Homo sapiens: one gene and its partners. The protein of the gene in region 6 purifies or fractionates together with the protein of the main gene of each other region. This does not show direct contact. Each region holds a gene or a part of one and is shown on either strand. Other genes may lie near its edges. The genes, in order: NECAP2, ZNF185, GDA, STEAP4, GAN, GOT1 and PLG.

Region 1 (4,080 bases), on a different chromosome or scaffold from region 6:
ACCCCACTTCAGCCTCCCAAAGTGCTGGGACCATACCCACTCCATGACCCTGTTTCTAAAAAACAAAACAAAAAATACTAAAAGCAACAACAGACGTCAGCACATGGGAAAAACTGATGCCAGTCATAAATGCTTGTGGAAATTTTATGTTGTGCCGCACTGTCGAGTGCTGTAGTTGACAAGGTGATGTGTTTCACAAGGGCTTTTAAAGCTAGTCACGCTTGCCCTGTCTCAGATTGAATTAAATCAGCCTGCTTCAGATTCCCTATGGGTATGAAAACTTCCTCCCTTCTTTCCTCGGGGCTCACTGGCCCCTCTTATAGTCCTGCCTCAGGTACTAGCCTCTTCAGCAGGTGTGATTACCTAGGCCAGGGTTCACCTGTTCTAGGACACTCAGGGTTCAGGTAATATAAGTGGGTAAAGCAGATGGAATGGATGGGCTAGCAGCTCCAACTTATTCTCAGGTGGGCTTGGAGGCTCAGCATTAATAAAGCTTAATTTTAAGAGAGGCCAGGCAGAATACCAAACTGTGAGCTAAATTTGACCTGTAAGCTCTCTGACTTAAGCCTTTCCTTGATTATATTTTCTGTGTCTTCCCTTTAGCAAGAATGGATTCGATTTGAATCCCACAGTAAGGTTTGCCGATCTGTCTCAGCTGGTTAGAGATGCCTTGCGGGCAAAAGGCCCAGTAGTGTGGTAGAAAACCTTGGCTGGAAGGGGGCTCAGGGCTCAGCGCTCAGCCTAACCTGTGCTTTCAGGGGAGCTCTTTGCTCAGGCCCCGGTGGATCAGTTTCCTGGCACAGCTGTGGAGAGTGTGACGGATTCCAGCAGGTACTTCGTGATCCGCATCGAAGATGGAAATGGTAGGCATGGGTCCTGGTGCTTCCTCCTCTTGGGAAAGGTTTTCTCTGCCTTTGGAAGGTGGGTTGATCATGTGTTGTTCCCCAGGGCGACGGGCGTTTATTGGAATTGGCTTCGGGGACCGAGGTGATGCCTTTGACTTCAATGTTGCATTGCAGGACCATTTCAAGTGAGTGGGTCTGGGAGACACACGCTCATGCCCCTCCCTTCTTTCCCTGGACAGAATGATCTCCCAGGTTAGGATACCCAAGTGTTTGTGTGTGATTTGTCTGGCAGCAGAGACTCAGGAGAACCCAGGACAAGCCACCTCTCTTCTCTGCCAATGTTCATCTCTGCTGTAAAGCCTTCTCTTTTACCTGAGGCTCATCTCTACCATCCCAGCCTTCGGGCCTGCCACCTGTCTCCCCTTACCAGTCCCCTGAGCAGCCAGAGTCCTCATCAGGCTCCTGTGGCCTTTCTGGGCCTGCTCCTCCATGTAATCAATGGCGCTTGGATTCCCAGGGCACCCAGCAGATGCCCTGATGTCCTTTTCTGAAGCTAAGAGACAGGGCAGGAAGTCCTCCTCCACCATCTGCAGGGCTCGAACTCAGGCTGCCAGTGAGTGGGCTGTGCCCGGCCACTCACATGGGCGCCTCTGGCTCTTCCCTTACCGGTGCTGCTGGGTGGTGTGGTATGGAGGGTGGGGGACTTTTGTGTTGCCCTCTACTTTTGGGTATCTGTCTTGTCCCCCCGTCTGCCTTCTGAGTGTTTGAGGGTGTGTAGAGACCGCATCTTAGTTCTCATGTCATATACTGTAGAGGGAAGGGCAGGCTCTCACGTGTCCTAGAGATAGTGTTAGGACCCTCTACGTAAGTGATCTCGCTGCATTCGTAGCCATCTTGAAAACCTATAGAATTGTGGGCATATTTTGCTGATGAGGAAACCAATGTGCATGCCGCTACTTAAGTGTCAGATTGGGATTTGAATTCAGGCCTCACTCCCAAGCCTGCACTCTTTCCAGCACCCCGTCTCACTACGAGGCTCAGCCTGGACTGATAGCAGGCAGTAGTGAAGTGAGCCAGTGATTGCAGGGCAGCTGGTCTCTTCCTTCCTCACCTTTTTCCTCATGTTCTCTCCCCAGGTGGGTGAAACAGCAGTGTGAATTTGCAAAACAAGCCCAGAACCCAGACCAAGGCCCTAAACTGGACCTGGGCTTCAAGGAGGGCCAGACCATCAAGCTCAACATCGCAGTGAGTTCTACCCTTGCTTGGCTGTGGTGACGTGATACTTGTGGCCACCCAGCCCCAGAGCCCATTGCTCTTCTTACAGTTCAGCTCCTTCAGTTCAGCAGATGTTTAGTGAGCATCTGCCTTGTGCCAGGTCCTGCATCGGGGTGAACAAGAGACCTCTGTTCTCATGGAGCTCAGAGTTGAGCTGAGACAGGCAGGTAAAAATGTGATAACAACATGGCAGGAAAGGTTCCATGACTAAGGGATGCCCTGGGTGCCGTGGGCTCCTAGAGGAAGGGTGTGCAGCCCATAGTTGTGGGAACCAAGGAAGGCTTCCTGGAAGAAGGGACCTGTAGGCAAGGGAAGAGTGATCAAAGAGTGGTTCACACAGAGGAACAGCAGGTGCAAAGCCTCTGAACTGAGAAGGAGCATCAGTCATTTGCTGCCAGAGGTGGTGTTTCTGTCCTAGCTATTAGAGTGCATCAGGAGGGACCTGTGTGCTCATCCCAGGCTGTGTCTTGAATAAGGAAGATTTGGGAGAGTTCTGGCAGGAGGGCGTTGAGGTGGGCGCTGGGAGTCCTGGGCAGCTTGTGCTGATGGTGTTGTCCTGGCTCCTGTGTCTTCGTTCTGAGCTGCTCTGCCTCTGGCTTCCCTCCCGTCAGCTCCTGTTCATAGGAACAGGTTGGGCTGGGCTGGGCTGGGCTGGGTTGCCTAAAGTTGGCCTTTACCTGGCTGCAAGGGTGGAGAGGGGAGATGAGGTCAGAGTCATGATTGCGGGGACCCAAGGACCAAGTGGATTGGTTTTTGTTTTTGCTAGGAATACTGTGTTGAGATGGATTTGTTTTTTCAAGAAGCTTTGTAACTCTAAAATAATGCTTTTCCTCTTTACTTACTCTTTCTCCTCTTTTCTGCTTCGTGCTGGTGATGATTTGGGATCCTTGAAGTTGGCCAGCTGGCCCTTAAGAGAGAAATGCAAGTCCAATCCAGTGGACTGGTTGGGATGTGATTCTTTCTCTCGCTTGGAGGAAACTAACATTTAATGAGCATCAGCTGAGGGCCAGGTAGTGGTTTTTTTTTGTTTTGTTTTGTTTTTTGTTTTGTTTTGTTGTTTTTTTTTTTTAGGCATTTCTCATGTGAATTAAACATCCTCTCCCTTTCCTCCATGAGATGAGGAAATGGAGGCTTAGGGAGGGTTGGGGACTTGCCCAGGGTCACAGAGCTAGAAATAACTGGCACAGCTGTGCTCACACTGAGGTCTTTGAGGTCTTTTGACTTCAGGGCTGGACTTACGATTTTATTAAGCTGCTGCTTTCCTTACAAGTAGGGAACACATTATCTTCATCTGTGTAACTTGTGCTGCTTTCTGGCTCATGCTTGGTGCTCAGTTTTTTTTTTAAAGCATTTTCTTGAAGTATAATGTGCATGTAAAAAAGTGTACAAATCATAAATGCAGAACTCTGTGAAATTTAAAAAATCTAATCTATAGGCTGGGAGTGGTGGCTCACGCCTGTAATCCCAGCACTTTGGGAGGCTGAGGTGGGCGGATCACCTGAGGTCGGGAGTCCGAGACCAGCCTGACCAACATGGACAAACCCTGTCTCTACTAAAAATACAAAATTAGCCGGGCATGGTGGTCCATGGCTGTAATCCCAGCTACTCCGGGGGCTGAGGCAGGAGAATTGGCTTGAACCTGGGAGGTGGAGGTTGCAGTGAGCTGAGATCGAGCCATTCATTGCACTCCAGCCTGGACAACAAGAGCGAAACTCTGGCTCAAAAAACAAAACAAAACAAAACACCCAATTTATAAACTTGCACCTTGCTCAAGATGCAAAAGATTGTCAGCACTCTGGAAACACCTCTCCTGGCCCCTCCCAGTAACTGCCCTGAGTAACCCCATCCTGACTTCACATACCCTAGATTTTGTTTGTTCTTAACTTTCATGAATTGAATCATACACCTAATCTTGATTTGGAATGATTTCTTTCTTTTACTCAATGTAATTTTTGTGAGA
Region 2 (3,755 bases), on a different chromosome or scaffold from region 6:
TCAGACTGACAGCAGCACCCTGAGGATCCCCAGGCCCCCAGCCCAGTGCAGCCAGGCAGAGCACCTGAGGCTCGGCCGGGTGCAGGGCCAAGCCCAGGAAGCACAGCCAGCCAGCAGCAGCCTCACGACCCATGACCCTTTCCCCAGATCCGTGGGGCCCCTCCTACAAGCTTCCTGCGGTCTCCGCTCTGCCTCGGATCAGACGTGCAATGTGCACAGCCATCCAGTTTTCTGGGGCTTGTTACCCTCTGGTGGGCTCCAGGCCACAGCTGCAACTGGCAGGGAGTGTCAGGCAGGCGGGACTTCCCGGGCTGTGCTCGGTGGCAAGTAGTCAGCTGCCTTCAGTGGACCCAGAGTTTGGACTTGTTCCTTGGAGGAGGGAACCACGCTGAGCCTGGCGTTGCATACTCACAGCTTCTTGTAATCCTCAGTGGTCATCTTGTAGCCAGAGGAGGAGGGGCGGGGAGGACCAGCGTTAGCTGTTCTCACCAGACTGGCAGCACTAGAGAGGAGAAGGTTCCATGTGTCTACCTGCAGGCTCCCTCCTGCCTCCAGATTTGGCCACACAGCCCAGTGGACACATGAGAGGTGGACCAGGAGCTGCCTGGGAGCCTTTCCTCTTTGCTTTTGGCCCTGACAGACACCCGGAACTGCGCCACTCAGAGCAGCTGTGTAGGCAAACCCCACCGAGCTTCAGGGAACAGCCCAGCGGGCTCTTGCCTGTGTCTTTGCTTCCTGTTTCCGGGTCCCCTTGGCCTTTCCAGTCTGACGGAGTCCCAGGCAATGCCTGATGCCAAGGTGCTTGAATTGCATGCAACTTCAGCCTTCTCAATGCCATCAGCAAGTCAAGTCAAGGGTGCCCACTGCCAGGCTAGGGGGACTCTACACCCAGCCCCTCCCAAACTCCTGCACCTCTCTGTCCCATTAGCCAGGCCTAGTCAGGACTGACCCCAGGACAAGGACACTGTTAGTGGCCCAGGACCTCCCAGAGACCCACACATCCACTTGGGACTGCCAGTCCCACCCCAGCCCATCTCCTCTGGTCACCCCACCCTGCTCTCCAGGGTCCTGCCCTACCCAGGATGAAAGCTGGCACCTCCAAGGCCCCACAGTCCTGATAGGCAGAGCACTGTCTCTGCCAGGAGCCCAGACCAGGCCCTCACACCTCCCCACTGGCCGACTGGCCAACACCCCATGGACATACCTTTTTGGAGTCCCGTTGGCCTTGGGGAACTGCTGCTGGGGCTGGGAAGAGCTGTCTATGGGCTTGGTGAACACTCCCCTGAAAGAGAGCCCAGGAGATGCCGGTGAGCTCCCTGGAGGGACTGGAGGGGTAAGAAGTCAGGGCTTGGCGTGAGTGGGCACAGGAAGGCCGGCAGAGTCCTGCGGTCACTTACCGGATGATGTAGCCAGTGGGAGCCCTTGTGCTCGGAGGCCTGCCGAAGAGAAGAAGGGGTGGAGTGAAGCGAGGCTTGCTGGAGGGCTGAGGTCATCCTACTTTATCCTGCCCTTAACGATAGCAAATAAGATTGGCTGGCAAGTGCTCCAGGTGTCCCAGTACAGCAGAAACGAGGGGTGCCAGCCCCCTGTGCCCCTGATCAGGTGCCCGCTATGCTCTGCCTATTTCCCTCATGCTCCCCCAGGAAAAGTGCCCCAGGTGACTCCTCATGGCAGGTGCCTAGGAAGGCAGCTTGATGGCCTCTCCAAAGTCCAGCTTCTCCTTGGCCAGCCAGTTCCCAGTGCTGCGCCGACGGAGCACTGCTCTCAGCTGACAGCCCTCCCATCCTCTGTGCTTGGGGCTGAACCAGTGCAAGCTGGAGGCTCCCCAGTCAGAGCCAGAGGCTTCCCCTCAGCCCGGGGTCTGACCTGATCTCCCTCAACAGCCTCCACCAGGAAGGTGCATGAGGGCTTGAAGGGGAGAGCCCAGGCAGCAGCCAGCCGAAGCCAGCTGTCCCCCTTCCTGTCCCTCGGGGCCCTCTTTGCTCCAGCTCCTTGCATGCCCACACCCCAAGTCTTGGTGGAAGTTTGAGACGAGAGGGCGCGGCCAGGCCTTGTTCAGCGGCTGGGAAACATTAGGCTCTGGGTGCTTGGGACCTCCTGCTTGGCAGCAACTGAGGGGGCTCAGATAACTCAGGGGGCAGCCAAGACGAGCGGGCAGGGAGCTGACAGCCAGGGGTGGTCAGCCTGGAAGTTCTGGCCTCCGGGCAGGAGTTAGGGGCCCCTGCAAAGAGTCCTCCTCAGAGTTAGGGGAGGAGTCAAGGGGTCAGGGTAGACCCTTCTGTCCTGCAGTGGAGGGGATGTGGGCTGGAGCATCGGGGTTTGGGTCAAGGGCAACACAGAGCCTCCGGTAGTCTCCAACCCCACAATCTCCATCTCTAACAGGGGACAGCCTCCCAGAGGTGGCCATGTTGCAGGCACACTTGGGGGTTCTCGCTTTTGTATTGAACTGTTTACTAGGGTCCTGCCTGAGTCCCCTGCTGGGACGTCAGTTGCCCAAAGACAGGGCCTTTGTCTTGACCACTCCTGCATCCTCTGTGCCCAGCATGGGACCTGGCAGGTAGTGGGCGCTGAGTCATCGAGGGGTGACAGAGAGACCGTAGTTACTAAAGGTAGCCCTGTGTGCTGGCTGTAAACTTGAGGCCCTCCCTTCCAGAGGCCGCCACTGCCTCTACCACCCCCTGAGAAGCCGCCTGCCGGCTGTTTGGAGCAAGGAGCGAGCCTGAATTTCAGTTCCCTTTCTCTGTCAGGAGCAGTTCCTCCAGAGGCCAGCAGGGTGTGCCCACGCTTCAGAGCCCCCCTAGACACTGTTATGGAAAAGCCCCCAAAAGAGAGAGAAGCCAGTTCTCCTTGGTCAGCTGACAAAATATGTCACGGTAAACTTGGGAGACAGTCAGAGCAAACTCGTGCCTCTCTACAGGCATGCTGAGTCCCAAGTACACTCAAGCAGTCAGGGTGACCTGCAGGAGTGAGTCACTGTGACTCTGGAAGCTGCCCAAAGCATCTCAGAGGCAGTATCACTCCCTGCAGGGAATGGGTGGGAGGTCGTCTTCTTCTTAAAGACAATTTCAATCCCAGTTAACAGCTGGAGCCACGGAGGCCCAGCAGGGAAGTCAGCTGCCCCACAGCCACACAGCCAGGCCAAGGGCCTGGACCAAGTGACTCCTACACTCCCCTTCCCAAAAGGAAGGTGCAGTGGAGAAGCCCCTCCTTCCTGCAGATTTCAAATTACTCATTGCAGACCCTTGGCTGGGGCTGCATCCCTGTCCCCTGTGGACTGCCCACCCCTCCCTGTTGAGGGCTGGCCCCAAGCTGCAGGAGAGTCCCTGGGGCTGACCCACCAGCCACCTGAGCACCACCTCTTACCTAGGCTTCGGAACCTCCCCAGCTGATGAAAAGGATGTGGCGCGACTCCGGCCTGAGGGCAGCTCTCTGGGGGAAAGAGGCATCCTGAAGGATTGGCTCCGAGACTCCCTGTCACCTGCCATCCTGTGGCCTCCATCCTAGAGGCTGCCCAGCAAGTCCTGCCATTTCTGCCACACATTCTCCTTCCCAGGCACCCAGGGGCTCTCCCACCCTGTGACATTGCTGGATAGCCTTTCCCACGCTCTGCCCTCCACATGGCCTGGCGGAGCTCTGAATGGTGGAAGCCCCTTCGCATCCCCAGGTATGGTCGGTCCCCCACGGATTGCGCGCCCCCACGTTGCTGCGGTCCCTCCCCGCCTCCTTGCCTTACATGGTGCGACCCTCCGATTCAT
Region 3 (4,080 bases), on a different chromosome or scaffold from region 6:
TCAGGTATAGGGAGGGCACCCCTTACGTGATGGTCTTATGACCTGCATTGGGGTAAGGGGTAAGGGGAGGGTCAGAGTGACCTTCCTGTGTTTGATTTGAGGGTAGCGTGTCCTGACCCCCTCATTATTTTCATATTGCTTATTCTTTTACTCTCTGATTAGAGTAAATTTCTAAGAATAGGGCTCTAGGGAATAGTCCTAGTGATTTTTCTTATATCAGGGGTGTCCAAGGGAGTTCTTAGTTTCTGTTTCAGGTTGTGCCAGTAAAGCCCCCTCCCTCATCCCTCTTTTCTGCTTATCAGTAGAGACAGAAACTAAAAACCATGGCTTCAGGCTGCTAAAAGCCTAAAACAAAACATAACAAAACAGAACAACAACAACAAAATAAGGCAGGTTGGATGAGCTTGTCTTACATCATACCCGTCTTGAAATATTTGAATTATTTTACTAAATTAATTTCTTTAATTTATATAATACCTTTTCTCTGATGACTCAAAATTCACATACCCAGAACTTTCACACAATAGGTAAACTTCTGTTAATTGCCAGTGGGTTATTTTTTGTTCTGGGAGGTTTTTATAAAGCACATAGCCACTTCTTTTTTAATTAATAGAAGTAGATTTTGCCATTGAGAAACAAATTCGTATTTCTGGGCTTTGTCAACCACTATCAGCTGTGAATTTACTTTTCTAAATGCACAAATGAGTCTTTCTTATTACTTTTATTTTCCATTTTAGGCTGTTATCCAGAAGTTCCTCTATCTAGGTAGGTAGATGCATGTCTCTATGCTAAATATTAAATAGAACCTTTCCCTGTCTTTTTCTTGGGTATGGCTCTATGTATTTATCCTACCATATATTAAACTCTGTGGATGATAATTTGCTTTGATTCATTATTTTTTTAACAGTCTGAAGCATCAAGCCCATTGGTGGCACATTATTTAAAGGTTCTATTTGAAATGCACATGACTCCCTCTAGTCATAAATTCTAAGCTGAGGAATGGAAGGCCAAAGGTGAAGAGATCTTCATGTTCAACCCTCTTGTACTCATTCGGTATCTGACATACTGCCCTGCCATGTTTTTGTGACAAATGTATAGTAGAGTCTCACCACACGTGCTGGTGATGTACTCACATTCAATTCCATTCACTGAGAGAGAGAGAAACAGTAATGCAGAATATTCTACACTGCCTCCCATTCTGTTCAGTGAGCCCAGGACTGAGTGAACTCAAGATGGAAAGATGCATGTGTTACTTCTTGTGGAGCTGATTCTGGAGCGTAAAGAGTAGTATTTCTTTCTCAGTGGGGGCAAAATGTAAACCAACCACTTCAGCTGAGAAAGGACAGCTATAGGGGGTTGATTCAACTTTATGTGATTTCTGCCTCTGGTGCAGAATTCAGACCCTAATCATCAAATTAGCTATGGCATTTTCTACTAGTCATATCTTCCTGTTCAGATTATAAACAATCTGAGGGTTGGGGGAAAGCAGCTTTTAGTATTTCCTCTCCTAGAAGTATCTTTAAAAAAAATCTCTCCCAATGGCAAGGAAGATACTTATTGACACAAAAGGATTTTATACATGATTCCTTGATTTTTCTTTCAGGAGATGATCGAAATATTGAAGAGGTTTATGTGGGCGGAAAGCAGGTGGTTCCGTTTTCCAGCTCAGTGTAAGACCCTCGGGCGTCTACAAAGTTCTCCTGGGATTAGCGTGGTTCTGCATCTCCCTTGTGCCCAGGTGGAGTTAGAAAGTCAAAAAATAGTACCTTGTTCTTGGGATGACTATCCCTTTCTGTGTCTAGTTACAGTATTCACTTGACAAATAGTTCGAAGGAAGTTGCACTAATTCTCAACTCTGGTTGAGAGGGTTCATAAATTTCATGAAAATATCTCCCTTTGGAGCTGCTCAGACTTACTTTAAGCTCAAACAGAAGGGAATGCTATTACTGGTGGTGTTCCTACGGTAAGACTTAAGCAAAGCCTTTTTCATATTTGAAAATGTGGAAAGAAAAGATGTTCCTAAAAGGTTAGATATTTTGAGCTAATAATTGCAAAAATTAGAAGACTGAAAATGGACCCATGAGAGTATATTTTTATGAGGGAGCAAAAGTTAGACTGAGAACAAACGTTAGAAAATCACTTCAGATTGTGTTTGAAAATTATATACTGAGCATACTAATTTAAAAAGAGAACTTGTTGAAATTTAAAACGTGTTTCTAGGTTGACCTTGTGTTTTAGAAATTTGCACTTAATGGAATTTGCATTTCAGAGATGTGTTAGTGTTGTGCTTTGCCTTCTTTGGCGATGAATGTCAGAAATTGAATGCCACATGCTTTCATAATATAGTTTTGTGCTTCAAAGTGTTTGACAGAAGTTGGGTATTAAAGATTTAAAGTCTCTTAGGAATATTATTCATGTAACTCCATGGCATAAATAGTTGTATTTTTGTGTACTTTAAAATCAACTTATAACTGTGAGATGTTATTGCTTCCATTTTATTAGAAGAGAAACAAATTCCATGCTTTATGGAATTTATGTAGACTGGAGTCTTCGTGAACTGGGGCAAATGCTGGCATCCAGGAGCCGCCAATACTAACAGGACAGGTTCCATTGCCATGGCCTATTCCACCCAAACAATATGTTGTAGTTTCTGGAAATTCCATACTCAGATATCAGTCTGCTAGAACTTTAAAATGAAGGACAAATCCTGTTAAAGAAATATTGTTAAAAATCTTTAAACCCTGTGTATTGAAAGCACTCTATTTTCTAATTTTATCCAGTTTTCTGTTTAACTCCTTATAATGTTTAGGATATTAAAATTTTAGGATAATGAAGAGTACATAATGTCCTACTTAATATTTATGTTAATAGGACTTAATTCTTACTAGACATCTAGGAACATTACAAAGCAAAGACTATTTTTATGCTTCCATAACCTAGAATTAAAACCAAATTATGACCTTATGATAAATCTTTAAGTATTGGTGTGAATGTTATTTAAATTCTATATTTTTCTTATTTAATTACAAATACTATAAATGAGCAAGGAAAAGGAATAGACTTTCTTAATATATTATAACACTCATTCCTAGAGCTTAGGGGTGACTCTTTAATATTACCTTATAGTAGAAACTTTATGTAATATAGCTAACTCCGTATTTACAGAACAAAAAAACACAGTTCCCCCTCCTGTAGTATAAATTTTATTTTCACATACTTAGCTAATTTAGCAGTAATTGGCCCAGTTTTTTCCCTAATAGAAATACTTTTAGATTTGATTATGTATACATGACACCTAAAGAGGGAACAAAAGTTAGTTTTATTTTTTTAATAAACAACAGAGTTTGTTTTGTGAGATAAGTATCTTAGTAAACCCAATTTCCAGTCTTAGTCTGTATTTCCAATATTTCTAATTCCTGAGCCACGTCAAAGATGCCTTGCCAAATTTCTCCCCATTTCTCTACGGGGCTAGCAAAAATCTTCAGCTTTATCACTCAACCCCTGCCAAAGGAACTTGATTACATGGTGTCTAACCAAATGAGCAGGCTTAGGAATTTAGATGAGATGTGTAAGATTCACTTACAGGCAGTAGCTGCTTCTAGCATTTGCAAGATCCTACACTTTTACCTTCTTTAAGGGTGTACATTTTGATGTTGAACATCAGTTTTCATGTAGACTTAGGACTCATGTGCAGTAAATATAAATAAGTGTAGCATCAGAAGCAGTAGGAATGGCCGTATACAACCATCCTGTTAAACATTTAAATTTAGCTCTGATAGTGTGTTAAGACCTGAATATCTTTCCTAGTAAAAATAGGATGTGTTGAAATATTTATATGTACTTTGATCTCTCCACATCACTTATAACTTATGTGTTTTATTTCTCCAAGTGCGGTGTTCCTGAATGTTATGTATGCTTTTTTTTCTGTACCACAGGCATTATCTATACCTGGGGCCAGATTTTCTGCACTTTGAAATGTTGCCTTTGCCTAATGTAGGTTGACTTTCTGAATTGTGGAGAGGCACTTTTCCAAGCCAATCTTATTTGTCACTTTTTGTTTTAATATCTTGCTCTCTGACA
Region 4 (4,080 bases), on a different chromosome or scaffold from region 6:
TTCGTAATCTTGGACTTACTCCAATGGATCAAGGATCACTCATGGCAGCCAAAGAAATTGAAAAGTACCCCCTGCAGCTATTTCCAATGTGGAGGTTCCCCTTCTATTTGTCTGCTGTGCTGTGTGTCTTCTTGTTTTTCTATTGTGTTATAAGAGACGTAATCTACCCTTATGTTTATGAAAAGAAAGATAATACATTTCGTATGGCTATTTCCATTCCAAATCGTATCTTTCCAATAACAGCACTTACACTGCTTGCTTTGGTTTACCTCCCTGGTGTTATTGCTGCCATTCTACAACTGTACCGAGGCACAAAATACCGTCGATTCCCAGACTGGCTTGACCACTGGATGCTTTGCCGAAAGCAGCTTGGCTTGGTAGCTCTGGGATTTGCCTTCCTTCATGTCCTCTACACACTTGTGATTCCTATTCGATATTATGTACGATGGAGATTGGGAAACTTAACCGTTACCCAGGTAAATCTCTTCTTATATATTTTCTTCTGCTCCTGAAATCAGAGACTATTGCTACATCATATTCCATTTCATAATTATAGAAAGTCACTCTTCTAAGCATCTTCTTTTTTAAAGTAACTAGAATTAGAAATGTCATGTCAGTTTTTTAAAATGAATCCAGTTTAGATCTCATACAACTATTAAGAATAAAAGTTTGCCGGGGGCGGTGGCTCACTCCCATAATCCCAGCACTTTGGGATTCCGAGGCAGGTGAATCATGTGGTCAAGAGATCAAGACCATCCTGGCCAACATGGTGAAACCCCATCTCTACTAAAAATACAAAAATTAGCTGGGCATGGTGGCGGGTACCTCTAATCCCAGCTACCCAGGAGGCTGAGGCAGGAGAATCGCTTGAACCCAGGAGGCAGAGGTTGCAGTGAGCCGAGATCGTGCCACTGCACTCCAGCCTGGGTGACAGAGCAAGACTCCATCTCAAAAAGAAAAAAAAAAAAAGAAAGAAAAAAAATGATACTTTCCAGGTTCGCTTGGGTCCAGATCTGTATTCCCAGGGCTCATAGAGATATTGGCAAACTGACAGATTTCATGGCTCAAGAAACCTAAAGACACCTACTTGAATTCCTTTGGTTGGCAGTCAAATGTTAACTAGTGTGTTTTCAAGCTTCTATTCTTAGGCATGTTACTTCCTTTTGGAAGTCAAAACCAACCATCTTTTAAGTAAGAGGGCTAACCAAATATGTGCCACACTAAAGCAAACAAATTCACAAAAGAGCGCTTATAATTCCCTTAATGTTTGACTTGGGGGAAGTTGACCTCAATAACTAGAAAACCAAATAATTCTGAGCAAATATCAAATATTGTCTTATGCATAATCAAAAGATTCAGTGAGAATCAGCTGAAGGAGTTTTAAGACATTCTCAGAGGAAGTGCTATAAGTCAGTTCTAGTTTAGAAATAGCTAGTTTTGATAGATCTTACTTCAGTCTCAAAAATTATTAGTTAGTCATTAATGATGCTTCTATGGGTTTCTCTACATTATTTTCCCAACAAATACATGTAAGTTTCCTGGGTAAGAGTCACACTACAAGTGTCTGATTCCTCTCAACTTGTGGTGCAAGACTGATGTATTATATTATGATGTATTTATTATCATGTATAATAAACATGAAAGAACCCACTTTGAGAGTGTGAGTAATCCACATATAAAGCAGAAAAACAGAATTCTGATGTAATTGTTTGAGAACATCAAGTTTTGCTTGGGGAACAAAATGCAGATGGTAATGAAGGTTTAAGTGAGTGTTTACTGTCTTTTAGAATTTACAGGGAAAATCGAAACTTTCTACACAACTCCTAGAATCAAGTCCAAACAGAACCAATTACTTTTTTTGCCAAAAAATATAATTTCTAAGTGTATTTTTCACTAAAGTTATTTTAAAATAATTTTTAAGAAATGCCATACAATTTGCTTTGAGCAAATAATTTGTGCCCACTGTCAAAGTGTGGGCAGTTTGTAAAATGTAGTTTGTAAAAATGTAGTTTTGTAATTGCTTATAATTTTTCTTAGGCAATACTCAAGAAGGAGAATCCATTTAGCACCTCCTCAGCCTGGCTCAGTGATTCATATGTGGCTTTGGGAATACTTGGGTTTTTTCTGTTTGTACTCTTGGGAATCACTTCTTTGCCATCTGTTAGCAATGCAGTCAACTGGAGAGAGTTCCGATTTGTCCAGGTAAGAACTTCAAGTTCATTCCTAACTTTTCATTTTGCTCCATCACTTCCCTAGCAATCATATTTAAAAATTCAAATTAGAAAATGTTGAACCCAGGTACAAAAGGCAGAATCCATAATGATTTGATTTCTTAATACTCGCCAAGATTCCTGACTGCCTCCATATCTACAGCTAAGACTATAGGGTGAAAAATACTAAGAACTATTACAATTTATGTGTGGAGATGTACTAGGTACAAGGCAAAAAGAAACCCCAAGACAAAATTTCACCATCTAAAAAATTAACCTTACAACATGGACATACAGATATGGAAAACCAGATGTTGAGATAAAGTTTAAAATCTTCACAGCAAGATTTGATAGATGTCATCACACCGGAAGACTTAATGCTCTTCTGTAAGAGGGAAAATTGTTTTCTTCCACATGTCAAGCACCAACCAACCCCTCTTTAAAGGCAGTTAGTAACTACACATTCTTGTAGACCAGTGGTCCTCAAAATATGGCACCAGGACCAGCAGCATCTGCATCACCTGGAAACTTGTTAGATACACAAAGCCCCAGGCCATGCCCAGGCCTACTGAATCAGAAACTCTGAACCTGTGGCCCAGAAATTTAATGAGCCTTCAAGATGATTCTGATGCATGCTTATTATGAGTATAATAGAAAAGAGCATTAGTCTTTAAAATTAGGTTAGAATTTTATAGAACTATTGGAATCTTAAGTCTTGCAATTTCTCCCAGGGACCAAATGCAGTCAACATGTTCTCATTAGCAGTTTTGTTCAAGGTATTAAGGCAGAAATAAACAATAAGCTTTAAAATGTAGGCTGAAACAAGATTGGCTATTGCTCTTTATTGTGATAGAAATGAGCTAGGATCTGGTTTTAGTCAGTAACATATACTAAGATGGTGCTTCTTGAGGTCATACTGTGTCATATTCATCTCTGACCTCTAGAAAAGATGATAAATAAAAGAGTTTCACCTTTGGGAACCAAGACAAGCTACATTATTTATTCTAACTTGGAAGAGTTTACTCCTGGGAAACTTTTCCATCCAGCTAGGTTAAGGTGAAGCTACTATGTCATTTGTAAGAAATAATCTTGTTTTAAATGAAGTATTTACCATCCTGAAGAAGGGTTAGTGCTTTTTTTCAGTACTTGGCAAAGTGTCCTAAACATTATAGGTCTCAAATGTTTGTGGTTGTTGACAAATATCTGTCACTGGCTTAGAGTGTTTCACTTTAAGATGTAAATAATGTTAACTTACATATTTTTGTTTCTTGTTTATAGTCCAAACTGGGTTATTTGACCCTGATCTTGTGTACAGCCCACACCCTGGTGTACGGTGGGAAGAGATTCCTCAGCCCTTCAAATCTCAGATGGTATCTTCCTGCAGCCTACGTGTTAGGGCTTATCATTCCTTGCACTGTGCTGGTGATCAAGTTTGTCCTAATCATGCCATGTGTAGACAACACCCTTACAAGGATCCGCCAGGGCTGGGAAAGGAACTCAAAACACTAGAAAAAGCATTGAATGGAAAATCAATATTTAAAACAAAGTTCAATTTAGCTGGATTTCTGAACTATGGTTTTGAATGTTTAAAGAAGAATGATGGGTACAGTTAGGAAAGTTTTTTTCTTACACCGTGACTGAGGGAAACATTGCTTGTCTTTGAGAAATTGACTGACATACTGGAAGAGAACACCATTTTATCTCAGGTTAGTGAAGAATCAGTGCAGGTCCCTGACTCTTATTTTCCCAGAGGCCATGGAGCTGAGATTGAGACTAGCCTTGTGGTTTCACACTAAAGAGTTTCCTTGTTATGGGCAACATGCATGACCTAATGTCTTGCAAAATCCAATAGAAGTATTGCAGCTTCCTT
Region 5 (4,080 bases), on a different chromosome or scaffold from region 6:
TACTCAGCAAAAATATCCTTTACGAATGAAGACAAAATAATGACATTTGCAGGCAATCAAATCTGAGAGTTGTCCACCAAAAGACCCATATTAAAGGAAATTCAAAAGGATGAACTTCAGAGAGAAGGGAGATGATCCTAGGTGGAAAGTCTGAGGAGTTAAGAAGGAAGAACGAAGAAAGTGGCAAATCTAAATGAACACTATCTACCTACCTACCTGCCTGTCTATCAATCATCTATCTACCTATCTGTCTGTCCATCCATCTATCCATCCATCCATCCATCCATCCATCCATCCATCCATCCATCCATCCATCCAACATATATCAAAAAAAGACATATTGTGTATATAGTAGCTACCCCTTATCTGAAGTTTTGGTTTCTGTGGTTTTATCACCCATGGTCAACTGCAGTCCGAAAATAGGTGAGTTCAGTAAAGTAAGATATTTTGAGAGAGACCACATTCACATAACTATTACAGTATATTGTTATCGTCGTTTTATTATCAGTTATTGTCGTTAATCTTTTACTGTGCTGAACTTAAACTTTATCATGGGTATGGATGTATAGTAAAAACACACAGTATGTACAGGGTTCAGCACTATCTGTGGTCTCAGACAACCACTCGGGGGTCTTGGAATGCATCCCTCATTGATAAGGGGGATCTACTGTACATATTTATTAGTGATAATGCATTTTAAAACTGTAAGAGTATGGAAAATGGAAAATGAAGAAAAACTCTCCTGAAGAGAACACAGGTACTGACTAACTTTGGACTTTGCTAACTTAATACAGGCTGTAATTTCTAAGGTAATCTTCCTAAAGGACTATTAACAAGAATGTAAGTCCCAAACTGGTAGAGAAGAAAAATTGAATGACAAAAAAACAGTCAAAATCAATTTTTAAAAAGGCAAAAAAAAAAAAAAAAACAATGCAGCCTGGACAAACGGAAGGACCTCCTCAATCACTCACTTCTGTTTCCATCAATTCCACTGTACACAGTCGCTCCTTCCATTGCTGGGTTTCTGAAACACCAATCCCTCTAGCAAACTTTCAAATATTAGTCATATAGGAGCCTTTGTGACAGACGTGTATGTGTGAAAATTAGGAATATGTGTATATATTTTGGGGGAAATGTAAGGGAGCTAATTCTGAGAAGATGCAACAGGGAAACTAGACCTACATCCTGCAGGCTATACTACTCTGTCCAGCTCTTCACTACTGACAATAACTAATAATTTTGGGACTCATAAAATGACTCCACTTCTATACTATGGTAGAGCCTTGGCCATTTGTATGATGCACTGTGGTACAGTATAGCTTTAAAAATATTATAGCCTGGGCAACATTGCAAGATCCCATCTCTAAAAAGAAAAATAAAATAAAAAATAAAATTTTAAAGATAATGTTGCTGGGCAAGCAAACACAATTAAATAAGGACTGCAGGAGGGCTGCTGACCACAATTAGGATGACATGAGATGACACTTATCAGGTGGACAAGGGAGCAGGACCACGGCGAAAAGACAGGCAGCCAGCAAAGGCAATGCCTCAATGGCTATCTTTTCTATCAGCTCCTTAAGGGAGAGCTTTGGATAAAGTAGAGCAGTTTTCAAACTTGTAAAGGTCAAGTAAAGCATTTTCCATACTAAATAACTTTAAGCCATTGCCTATATAAGTAGCATTTCCTAAAGTCTCATAACTTCTCTTTTTTTTTCTTTTTTTTTTGAGACAGGGTCTCACTCTGTCACCCAGGCTGGAATGCAGTGGTGTGATCTTGGCTCACAGCAGTCTCGATCTCCTGGGCTCAAGAGATTCTCCCACCTCAGCCTCCCAAGTAGCTGGGACCACAAGTGCATGCCACTATGCCTGGCTAATTTTTTTGATTTTTAGTAAAGACAGTTTCTCTCCTACATTGTCCAGGCTGGTCTTGAACTCCTAGGCTCCTCTCACTTTAGCCTCCTAAACTGCGGGGATTACAGGTGTGAGCCACCACACTCGGCCTTATATAACATATTTTATATAATTACATATTGTAATTCTAAGCTGCATGAATTTCAAAGATGGGACTACCATGGTGCAAAGAAACGCTGTGTTCCAGGTGTGGCCCTACAGCTACTTAGTGGTAAGCATCACTGAAGTTTGCTCTCCTGACATTAAGTCATCAAGTAACTGCTTCTCCAGTAGTTCTTAAAAGCAGCTATGTGCTGAAGATACAGAGATAATAAGGACTGACAGAAAATACGGTTTTCCTAACCACGGTCTCAGAAGCTAGAACTACACTAAAAATGTCATGTAGAGATAATAAAATTGTATCTTTAAAAGGCTCTGAGTCATTCTGTAAAACCTTGAGATTACACATTACTTGATCTGCTGTTTAAGGAAAATTTGCCACAGAACGGTACCTGCTGAGAGAACTCCATGGTTAATTCTCGGCATGCTTAAAGGGGCCAGTTCGATCCAAAGCTGCCTGTTAGGGTCATAGAGAGGGCACATGCATCGCATCGCTGCTGTGGGTTTCCGTGAACTAAGGAAGTAAATAAGTGATCAGTAGTTAATGTGCTTCATACAGTTCTTTTTATAAGTAGCCATCACTAGTTTTAGTTTACTAAAGAATATTTAAAACATTTTTTAAAAACCCTTGTGGAAGTCAGTGTGACGATTCCTCAGGGATCTAGAACTAGGAATGCCATTTGACCCAGCCATCCCATTACTGGGTATATACCCAAAGGACTATAAATCATGCTGCTATAAAGACACATGCACACGTATGTTTATTGCGGCACTATTCACAATAGCAAAGACTTGGAACCAACCCAAATGTCCAACATTGATAGACTGGATTAAGAAAATGTAGCACATATACACCATGGAATACTATGCAGCCATAAAAAAGGATGAGTTCATGTCCTTTGTAGGGACATGGATGAAATTGGAAATCATCATTCTCAGTAAACTATCGCAAGAACAAAAAACCAAACACCGCATATTCTCACTCATAGGTGGGAACTGAACAATGAGAACACATGGACACAGGAAGGGGAACATCACACTCTGGGGACTGTTGCGGGGTGGAGGGAGAGGGGAGGGATAGCTTTAGGAAATATATCTAATGCTAAATGATGAGTTAATGGGTGCAGCACACCAGCATGGCACATGTATACATATGTAACTAACCTGCACATTGTGCACATGTACCCTAAAACTTAAAGTATAAAAAAAAAAATCAAATGTAATTATGTTTTAGATACTGAAAAGCATTATGAATTCTTGTTTACATGGAACTACCTCTTCCCATACACCACTTTTCAAACAAGTCCCACCTCATACTTACACTCTCTCTTCTCCACCAACAGTCACGATGCACTCAGAGTAGCCCCGGGGTTTGAAGTTGGCCAGCATCGCCTCCCCTTGCTGCGGCTGGCTGAGCGGTATATTGCTACACTCTTTGACAATTTCTCGTACTAATGGTTCATTCAGCATCTGTTCCCGTAAATAACTGGAGTCCAACCCTGAAACCCACAGAGCTGACATAACATCCTTCATGTGGACCTGCAGAAGAGGGAAGAAAGATGGGGCGAAAACAATGGAAAATGCAACACATCATTTTTAGAATCTACATTTTCCACCTCATGGAAAACAAACTGTTAACACTCAGGTTATTACCAGGCAAGTGAGACACACTCGTGCTGCTTGAATATCTTCTCCTGGCCCTAACTGTCTACTTCCCAGAGTCTTGATAAGTAAAAGTTTAATTTTTAAAAATCATCAGTTTATTTGAGGTATCACTGTAAAAGTTTCAAGCAGCTTCCTTTACACCTTAAAGGATTCCCATTTCAATAGGAAAAGACAGGAAAAGAACCAGCTATAATTTGCTTTATTTCACACATTTGGATGTGCCATGAGTTAAATCATGTTTATACAAATATTATATACAGTAATAGCTCAATACAATATGGTAAACTTAGACATCAACATTAATAATACAAGAAAAATATACAAAAGCCAAAGTTTAAAAAAAAACCTGAGTACTATATAATCATTTTTGCAGTAATTACTGTTCAAAAATATCTAAGACGACTA
Region 6 (4,080 bases):
GGCCCCCACTCTCTTCTGGCTTGTAGAGTTTCTGCTGAGAGATCAGCTGTTAGTGTGACGGGCTTCCCTTTGTGGGTAACCCGACCTTTCTTTCTGGCTGCCTTTAACATTTTTTCCTTCATTTCAACTTTGGTGAATCTGACAATTATGTGTCTTGGAGTTGCTGTTTTTGAGGAGTATCTTCATGGCATTCTCTGTATTTCCTGAATTTGAATGTTGGCCTGCCTTGCTAGGTTGGGGAACTTCTCCTGGATAATATCCTGCAGAGTGTTTTCCAACTTGGTTCCATTCTCCCCGTCACTTTCAGGTACACCAATCAGATGTAGATTTGGTCTTTTCACATAGTCGCATATTTCTTGGAGGCTTTGTTCGTTTCTTTTTATTCTTTTTTCTCTAAACTTCTCTTCTCACTTCATTTCATTCATTTGATCTTCCATCACTGATACCCTTTCTTCCAGTTGATCGAATCGGCTACTGAAGCTTGTGCATTCGTCATGTAGTTCTCGTGCCATGGTTTTCAGCTCCATCAGGTCCTTTAAGTACTTCTCTGCATTGGTTATTCTAGTTAGCCATTCGTCTAATCTTTTTTCAAGGTTTTTAACTTCTTTGCGATGGGTTCGAACTTCCTCCTTTAGCTCAGAGAAGTTTGATCTTCTGAAGCCTTCTTCTCTCAACTCGTCAAAGTCATTCTCCATCCAGCTTTGTTCCGTTGCTGGTGAGGAGCTGCATTCCTTTGTAGGAGGAGAGGCACTCTGATTTTTAGAATTTTCAGTTTTTCTGCTCTGTTTTTTCCCCATCTTTGTGGTTTTATCTACCTTTGGTCTCTGATGATGTACAGATGGGTTTTTGGTGTGGATGTCCTTTCTGTTTGTTAGTTATCCTTTTAACAGTCAGGACCCTCAGCTGCAGATCTGTTGGAGTTTGCTGGCGGTCCACTCCAGACCTTGTTTGCCTGGGTATCAGCAGCGGAGGCTGCAGAACGGGGAATATTGGTGAACAGCAAATGTTGCTGCCTGATCGTTCCTCTGGAAGTTTCGTCTCAGAGGGGTACCCGGCCATGTGAGGTATCAGTCTGCCCCTACTGGGGGGTGCCTCCCAGTTAGGCTACTCAGGGGTCAGGGACCCACTTGAGGAGGCAGGCTGTCCGTTCTTAGATCTGAAACTCCGTGCTGAGAGAACCACTACTCTCTTCAAAGCTGTCAGACAGGGACATTTAAGTCTGCAGAGGTTTCTGCTGCCTTTTGTTCGAGCTCTGAGCCTTTCTTCTGCTTGGAAGGCCTCACCATTCCCAGGCTGCTGTCTTAGTTCACTAATAGCCTCTTAATTTACCTTCCTGCCTCTAGTCTCTTCCCTGTTTTAGTACATTCTGCATGCTGCAGCTAGGATGACCTTCCTTGGCAAAACAAGCTACTCATGTCACCTGTTCCCACTCCCCACCCCCACCGCCCATAGCTCCCCCATTGCCTGTAGGGTAAAATCCAGACTTTGAGCTTGGCATGCAGTGAAAGTAGGTGACAGGTGACAGTCTTCATCCTGTTCTTACAGTTGCTGATTTCCCCTCACTCCACTAGAGGTCCTGACATTCTAAGAGTCTTGCTGTTCTCTAGACCTACTGGGCCCTGTCAAGACTAAGAACCTTTGCCTGGCCCTTCTCTCCATTTGGAATGCCCTCCCTTATTGCTCTAGCTGTCCAGTCCCCACCTCTAAGTCCTTCAAGAGCTGATCAAGGGTCACTTCCACACTGAATCCTTAGGTATTTTAGGCAGAGCTTGTTGTTTAAGCTCTCTGAGTTATCACAGGACTTTGTTCACAGCTTGGGAATAACAGTACTTAACTGTTCTTACTATAATGGATAATTTTATAAGTCTTCATCTCCCACAAGGCCCTAACTTTCCCCAGGAGAGTGATCATTGCTTATTTACCTTGCAGATTTTCAGCATTTGGCTCCTATCCGGGTACCTCAGGTTCCAAAGGTTTGGATTCATTCATTCCTTTAGTCATCAGATGCCCACTACTAGAGCCAGGCACTGTTCTAGATGCTGGAGCACAGCAGTGACTCAAACACACAGAATCCCCTGCCCTTGCATTCAGTTTCGGGGAGAGGAACAGACTCTAAATGTAATCTTTTTGACTATATCAGTAAGAAAATGATGTAGTATACTAAAGATGATAAATGCTATAAAAATGGAGCAGGAGGTGGCATGTTAGGAATTCTAGGAGTGGATACAGTTTTAACTAGGGTGGTTATGATAGAAATAGAAATGACATTTGAGCCAAAACTTAAAGACGAGACATAAATGAAAGAATGAGTGAACAAGTAAACCAACAGTAATTGTTTCTTCCCTTAGATTTTTCTTCTCCAGATTCAACATTTCCAGATCCTTTACCCATTTTGAGGAGACCTATTTTCTAGACTCCTCACTGCCTTGTATTACTTTTCCACTTTCAGATCTTAGGATCCAGACAGAAATGTCGATTTTTCATCTCTGGCATAGTGCTGTTTCAGCTTTGAGATTACTGAGCATTGTAGGAAGGAGGGCTCATGGGTCATAACTCATTGTCACATCATGACATCCCACTCTCGCTTTGATTGCCTCTAGGCGACTTGGGGCTTCTGCTGTGGCTCAGATCTTTTCACCACTGTCTTCTTTCTTCATCTAGTTCAGCACATGCTTATGTAGTACCATGTGCCAGATGCCGTGAGAGATGCTGGGGGCACCCAGATGAATGCAGCATGGCTCTGGCCACAGGCAGCTCCTGGTTGCTCTCCTATTCCTCATGGTGAAGTCATAGTATCGGCAAATTGTTATCTCAGACAAGGGTTCTAGAATCCAGCAATCTTATGCTGACATGTCCAACAGAGGCCTGCTCTATCTAGCTTCATACCAAGTCTTCCTGGATTTCCCTTGTTCTGGATACTCTTGTTTACCCAGGTCCAGTTGCCTGGCTCCTTGAGAAGTCTGTACTTACTTCCTTTGATGTTATGATTTTCCTTTATAACAAGTACAGGACATTCTTAGGCTGTAGGACAATTTGCCAAAAATCAGTTCACAGAATGACCACATTGCTATATTATTGATTCACCAAAAACTTGTTTCTGTTAGTTGCTGATGTTTAGAGCAACTTGTGTTTCACTGAAGCCATCCAGTATTTAATAGATTTTTAGGGAGTGATAACTTCTTGAGAATTTGATATTTCAAGTGTCATATATGTCATGAATGTCAAGGATTAGTTAATGTGGAGTGGGTTTATCTCTTCTAAGCACATTTTTAATGTATTCTACTGATTTTTAAAAAAATGAATTTGCTTTCTGTAGTGGGAGAGAAAGGGTGGAGTGAAAAGTTGAGAACAGGAAATGAAAAATTATGCCTGGGAATGTTTCCACTGGTATCTATGCATCTATCGTGTTTCCAGAAGTTAAAACCATGTTCAAGGGAGGTCTTGCTCATTTGCTTAGGAAGTATTAGCACTCTAGAGTGGCTTAGGTATCTGCAATGTGAAGTCATGTATGAAACTGACATTCAACTTAGCTGGATGACAAATCCATAAAAAATAAATGCACATTTGTGTTATATCATCTTGGTAGCAATTTGCATAAAGAATTCAGGTAAACCACAATGTGGGGGCAAAACTTTTAAAGTAATAGCAAGGGATGAGTGCTCAGTAAGGATCACTGTAAATAACAGAGTAGTTAGCACACCAAATCTGACACACACTGAGCATTTTCACCCCAGTGCACTGCCTTTGCCCCTCTCTGTAATGTACAGCTATGTTTAGTTCTGCATCCCCTTGAATGTCAACTTTGCTTATGTTTCACATTTCAGATAGTATTCTTTCACAGATGCTCACACCTATAAATACAAACAGAACATTGGTGCATAATAGTGCCGATAATTGGTAACATTACCTTGTTGTTGGCTTAAATGGGATTTCTACTAAACGATTCACTGTTTTTAAGCTGACTTATGGGTTAAATGAATTTTTTTCAGTCATTTTCAGGAAGTATCCACTGTTTCCTGTTTTACTAAGCATTTATCTCAGGAATAGCCAAGCTTTTCTTACCTGTTGTGATGATCATTT
Region 7 (4,080 bases), on a different chromosome or scaffold from region 6:
GTCATCTTTCAGAACCTCCCCTGACCGCATGTTCCCTGGAGGGCTCGCTGTCTTCAGAGCCAGGCTTGTCTCCTGCTGCAGCCTCCACTGCTCTCCTAGTCACTCTGTAACCCACCCCCTCTGCCTGCGGCCCCCACCACGCCCCTCAAAGTGGTCAAGGTTGTCCTGTTGTCTAATTCCATGGAGCTTGCCTGTCTTCATTTTATTAGCCTCTTTTGGCCTCTCACCCTTGTGCAAATCACTAGCATTCTGTGCCAAGGACGGAGCTGGCATCTCCAGGCTTGGAATAGAGCTACCAAAGCTCAGCCAGATGTCTGGAAGAGCCTCAGGACAAGGGGACACCCTGTAGCCTTGTGGTGGGAGCACAGCTGAGGCCCCCTTGGCCACCCTCTGCCACGACCAGGCAGAAAGCAGCTTTCGGACAGATTCGTTGTCTCAGATTTGATCTCAAAGAAAAACCAAGACCAGTATTTGTCCCAGGTCCTGCTTTTTTACAATTTCCTCCGAAATCCAGATACCTGTCAACACCTTGGAAAAACTGACTTCTCCCCAATTAGTAGTGTTGTGTGACTGTCATAAGCCCAGTACAAAAATGGCCTTCTTTGTTGGGGAGCTTCTTACCCTCCAGTGTTTTGCCCAATTTTTGTCCAAGGTGGCAACATAATTTAGTTCAGTTCTTGTTTATTTCCACCATCATCTATGCACCAAAATTTATGTTTCTCAAGGAGGGACCATTCAGAGGATGCTTCCCACCGGTTCAAGTGACAGTGCCAGAACCAAAGCGCATATTGTAGGAAATCAAACAATGGCCTCCAAGTTCCATTTCTACCCAGGGATGAACAAATCAACATCAATCTTGGTAACACAACTGCCACTGATGGTGCCTTACTCTTCTCTCATGACATGGCACAATCAATAGCAAACATAAAATTTGTTCTTGTTTAAGGATTTATATCCACTAATATGGTAACATAGTAGTGGTTCCATAGTTCTAACCTGTTTGTCAATCCAGTTAATCTTTTACTATCTTGCAATCTGCTAATGAAACTGTTTTTCTTTGTTTTATAATTTCAACTTTTAGAGTCAGGGGTACATGTGCAGGTGTGTTACATAACTAAATTGCGTGACACTGAGCTTTGGGGTACAAATGATCCCATCACCCAGGTAGTGAGCTAAATACCTACTAAATAGGTAGTTTTTCAGCCCTTGCCTTGCTCCCTCTCTCCCTTCTCTGGTAGTCCCCAGTGTCTTTAGTTGCCATCTTTATTTATGTCCAAATGCCCGACTGTGTGTTCTTAACTAAACATTTTGATTCATAGCTACCCATTCTACTTCCAGTAAACAGAAAGTTTTATTTGGTTAATGCTAACCAAATAGATTAAAAGGAAGTCATGACAATTAGACATTGACATTGATTTACTGACCATTTATTCCACTTGGATCTCCCACCTCTAGGTCAAGGAGAGCCTCTGGATGACTATGTGAATACCCAGGGGGCTTCACTGTTCAGTGTCACTAAGAAGCAGCTGGGAGCAGGAAGTATAGAAGAATGTGCAGCAAAATGTGAGGAGGACGAAGAATTCACCTGCAGGTATTTCCATTGTCGTTGCACCTACGCAGGAATCTGTAATTCAGATGGCAAGTAATTTACTCACAAATTTATTAATGATTTAAGAGGAAAGAGAAATTTATGGAGCCAGAGTTTGGAACTATATTTGCTCACAGTATGTGAAGCCATACTAACAGCTTCTTGTTAAGGTTTATTGGAGTCTTTGTTAGAAAAATACCCTCAAAGGAAGTTATTTGTTTTTACACCGGACACAAACATTAGCAGTTATTGTTCTGAGCTCCAGTTTTCAACATCATCATCAGTAAATGTTTGTTGAGGATCAGGTGAATGAAAGTGTCCTAGATAGATCTGAGCAATGACTTATAGCTACAAGATCCAGTGCCTGCCCTTTAGTATTTAAGGTGTAGTCAAAGAAACTGGATATAATGTTAAAAAAAAAAAAAAGACAGCCCAAGTGAGGTACAGGCATAATCAATGCATGCTCTACCCAGATCCAGAAGAAAGAACAGTGCCTAAGGTTGAGGCAGCTAGAGAAGGCTCAGGGAGGAGGTGGGAACTGAGCTGGGTTTGGAGTTGAGAGAGCTCTTGACAAGCACCAGGAAGGCAGGGGAAGATGCGGCCCTGCACCTTCTGAGGGGGACCATTAAGAGATGAAGTTGACTAAAGCAGAGACTTTGTGTAGGTGACGGGCTTGGGAAGGTAGCTATGGAATCCAGACTGAGCACCCATAGCAGGACCACGGGATGGAGATGGGAGGGGTCAGGGGCCAGGGTGGGGTGGAATGTGGAGCAGAGGTTCAGGGGAACTGATCAGAGTTGGGAGGTCATGGAGACGGACTATCTTGGCGAATGGGTTCAAAGCAACCAGAGTTGCTTCTTTCCAACCCAAAAACAAAAATTAAGAAGATGAGTGAAGAAGAAGTAAAGCAGTTGAAACAGGAAGAAAGGGAAAATTATGAGGGAGGGAAGGTAAGGGCAGATAAGATTTGCTGCCACGTTGGTGTATTTTGTTCAGTACTTCATCGATGCCATGCCCAAATAACTGAAAGAGGCAGCAATTCTGAGCTCTCTGGTCCCTCAAGATATTCAATGATCTTTAGCATGTCTCACTTATTAATAAACATTTGTTTTCTTTAAATAAAGAAAAATACTTATTGGATTTCCTGCTTCGTTCTGCAGGGCATTCCAATATCACAGTAAAGAGCAACAATGTGTGATAATGGCTGAAAACAGGAAGTCCTCCATAATCATTAGGATGAGAGATGTAGTTTTATTTGAAAAGAAAGGTGAGTACATTTTCTTCCTCCTCCTCCTACTGTCCTCCCCATCCTCCCACTCTTCCTCTTTCTCTATTCTATCTTTAATTTATAAGACCAGAGGAGGAAGGCACTATCGTGTTATAAAACTGAATTCTGAGTTAGGACAGGATTTGATTACTAACTAACCATGTCAGCTTGAGTGTATTACTTCACCTCTTAGATTTAATTTTTTTTGTTCAAAAGATGAAAGGATTAGATTTACAAAATCACTTCTACCTCTATGACCCTGAAAATAAGATTTTTAAAATATTATTTTATATTTAACAAGGAGATGGGAAGTCTAAGCATTCCTTTTGGTCTTGGCTTCTTATTCTGCAGGGTGACCATGGTCCTTGGGCCCTAACATCTGGATGAAGCCTTGTAAAACAGAAATACTGAGGTGTTTTAATCCTCAGAAACATTTAGATTGGGACACAAATCTTATTTTTACTCTTAAATTTTTCACATTTTGGGGGACATGGTCTATATTTTTCTCAGATTTCTGAAATGTTGTCTTTTAAAAATGTGTAAAAGTTACAGTTCCTTTTCTATAGTTTATTTTAAAATGTGGGTCAATAGTCCCACTGCTTAGAATAAGAGGCAGACAGGATTTCAATAGAAATTGCATGCCTTTTTAGATGTGCAAATGTTTCATTAAGCATTTCCCATCAAGTATATCCCATCAAGTATGCTCCCATTAAGCATATCCCATCAAGTATAAATATTTGAAGGGATGCATGACACTTTAAAAACTGTTTCCTCTACTGTGTTGGTAGCCAGGTATTAAGACTGTTAATAGTAACAATTTAGCTCTCCAAACATTCTGCATCCCAGGTGTTAAAGAGGACTGGAAACACCTTAGTTCTTGTATTCTTGAGGATGATTTGCCATATTGTGTCTAGTATTACGGCAAAACTCTAAGTAGCATTTTAAATAGTATTTATTTGGGTTGGAATTATTTCTATGCATTGACTCATCTTCCTGGGTTTCATTAGCTGTACGCATTGTACTTCCTTCCTTACCACTATTTATCTCGAATTCTTGAGATTAAAGTGCAGATTAAATCTAAACTTTATCTGGTGAAGTTATTAGTTCTTACAAGTAGCAAGCAAACGGTAAACTAAATAGGATCACCTAATTGTACCAGATTTTAAAAAAAAAAAACCCTGATTCTCCTGATTCTCTCTACAAAATGCTAACATTTAAATATGTC

What was found.
Region 1: the proteins of GOT1 (region 6) and NECAP2 purify together in Homo sapiens (affinity purification with mass spectrometry; one large-scale study listed by BioGRID and IntAct). This does not show direct contact.
Region 2: the proteins of GOT1 (region 6) and ZNF185 purify together in Homo sapiens (affinity purification with mass spectrometry; one large-scale study listed by BioGRID and IntAct). This does not show direct contact.
Region 3: the proteins of GOT1 (region 6) and GDA purify together in Homo sapiens (affinity purification with mass spectrometry; one large-scale study listed by BioGRID and IntAct). This does not show direct contact.
Region 4: the proteins of GOT1 (region 6) and STEAP4 purify together in Homo sapiens (affinity purification with mass spectrometry; one large-scale study listed by BioGRID and IntAct). This does not show direct contact.
Region 5: the proteins of GOT1 (region 6) and GAN purify together in Homo sapiens (affinity purification with mass spectrometry; one large-scale study listed by BioGRID and IntAct). This does not show direct contact.
Region 7: the proteins of GOT1 (region 6) and PLG purify together in Homo sapiens (affinity purification with mass spectrometry; one large-scale study listed by BioGRID and IntAct). This does not show direct contact.

What each region holds. Positions count from the first base shown.
Region 1 is NC_000001.11:16,447,112-16,451,191, forward strand, and holds part of NECAP2 (adaptin ear-binding coat-associated protein 2), read left to right. Parts: intron 1-758; coding exon 759-863; intron 864-948; coding exon 949-1,030; intron 1,031-1,981; coding exon 1,982-2,090; intron 2,091-3,013; coding exon of another isoform or gene 3,014-3,109; exon of another isoform or gene 3,110-3,130; intron 3,131-4,080. UniProt on the Homo sapiens protein: Involved in endocytosis.
Region 2 is NC_000023.11:152,914,812-152,918,566, reverse strand, and holds part of ZNF185 (zinc finger protein 185), read right to left. Parts: coding exon 3,734-3,755; intron 3,430-3,733; coding exon 3,364-3,429; intron 1,437-3,363; coding exon 1,398-1,436; intron 1,283-1,397; coding exon 1,205-1,282; intron 725-1,204; exon of another isoform or gene 503-724; coding exon 413-502; intron 1-412. UniProt on the Homo sapiens protein: May be involved in the regulation of cellular proliferation and/or differentiation.
Region 3 is NC_000009.12:72,246,669-72,250,748, forward strand, and holds part of GDA (guanine deaminase), read left to right. Parts: intron 1-737; coding exon 738-765; intron 766-1,603; coding exon 1,604-1,674; 3' UTR 1,675-4,080. UniProt on the Homo sapiens protein: Catalyzes the hydrolytic deamination of guanine, producing xanthine and ammonia.
Region 4 is NC_000007.14:88,279,037-88,283,116, reverse strand, and holds part of STEAP4 (metalloreductase STEAP4), read left to right. Parts: coding exon 1-476; intron 477-2,037; coding exon 2,038-2,202; intron 2,203-3,488; coding exon 3,489-3,719; 3' UTR 3,720-4,080.
Region 5 is NC_000016.10:81,356,254-81,360,333, reverse strand, and holds part of GAN (gigaxonin), read right to left. Parts: intron 3,550-4,080; coding exon 3,332-3,549; intron 2,525-3,331; coding exon 2,403-2,524; intron 1-2,402. UniProt on the Homo sapiens protein: Probable cytoskeletal component that directly or indirectly plays an important role in neurofilament architecture.
Region 6 is NC_000010.11:99,409,700-99,413,779, reverse strand, and holds part of GOT1 (aspartate aminotransferase, cytoplasmic), read left to right. Parts: intron 1-4,080. UniProt on the Homo sapiens protein: Biosynthesis of L-glutamate from L-aspartate or L-cysteine. Important regulator of levels of glutamate, the major excitatory neurotransmitter of the vertebrate central nervous system. Acts as a scavenger of glutamate in brain neuroprotection.
Region 7 is NC_000006.12:160,704,952-160,709,031, forward strand, and holds part of PLG (plasminogen isoform 1 precursor), read left to right. Parts: intron 1-1,455; coding exon 1,456-1,591; intron 1,592-2,748; coding exon 2,749-2,855; intron 2,856-4,080. UniProt on the Homo sapiens protein: Plasmin dissolves the fibrin of blood clots and acts as a proteolytic factor in a variety of other processes including embryonic development, tissue remodeling, tumor invasion, and inflammation. In ovulation, weakens the walls of the Graafian follicle.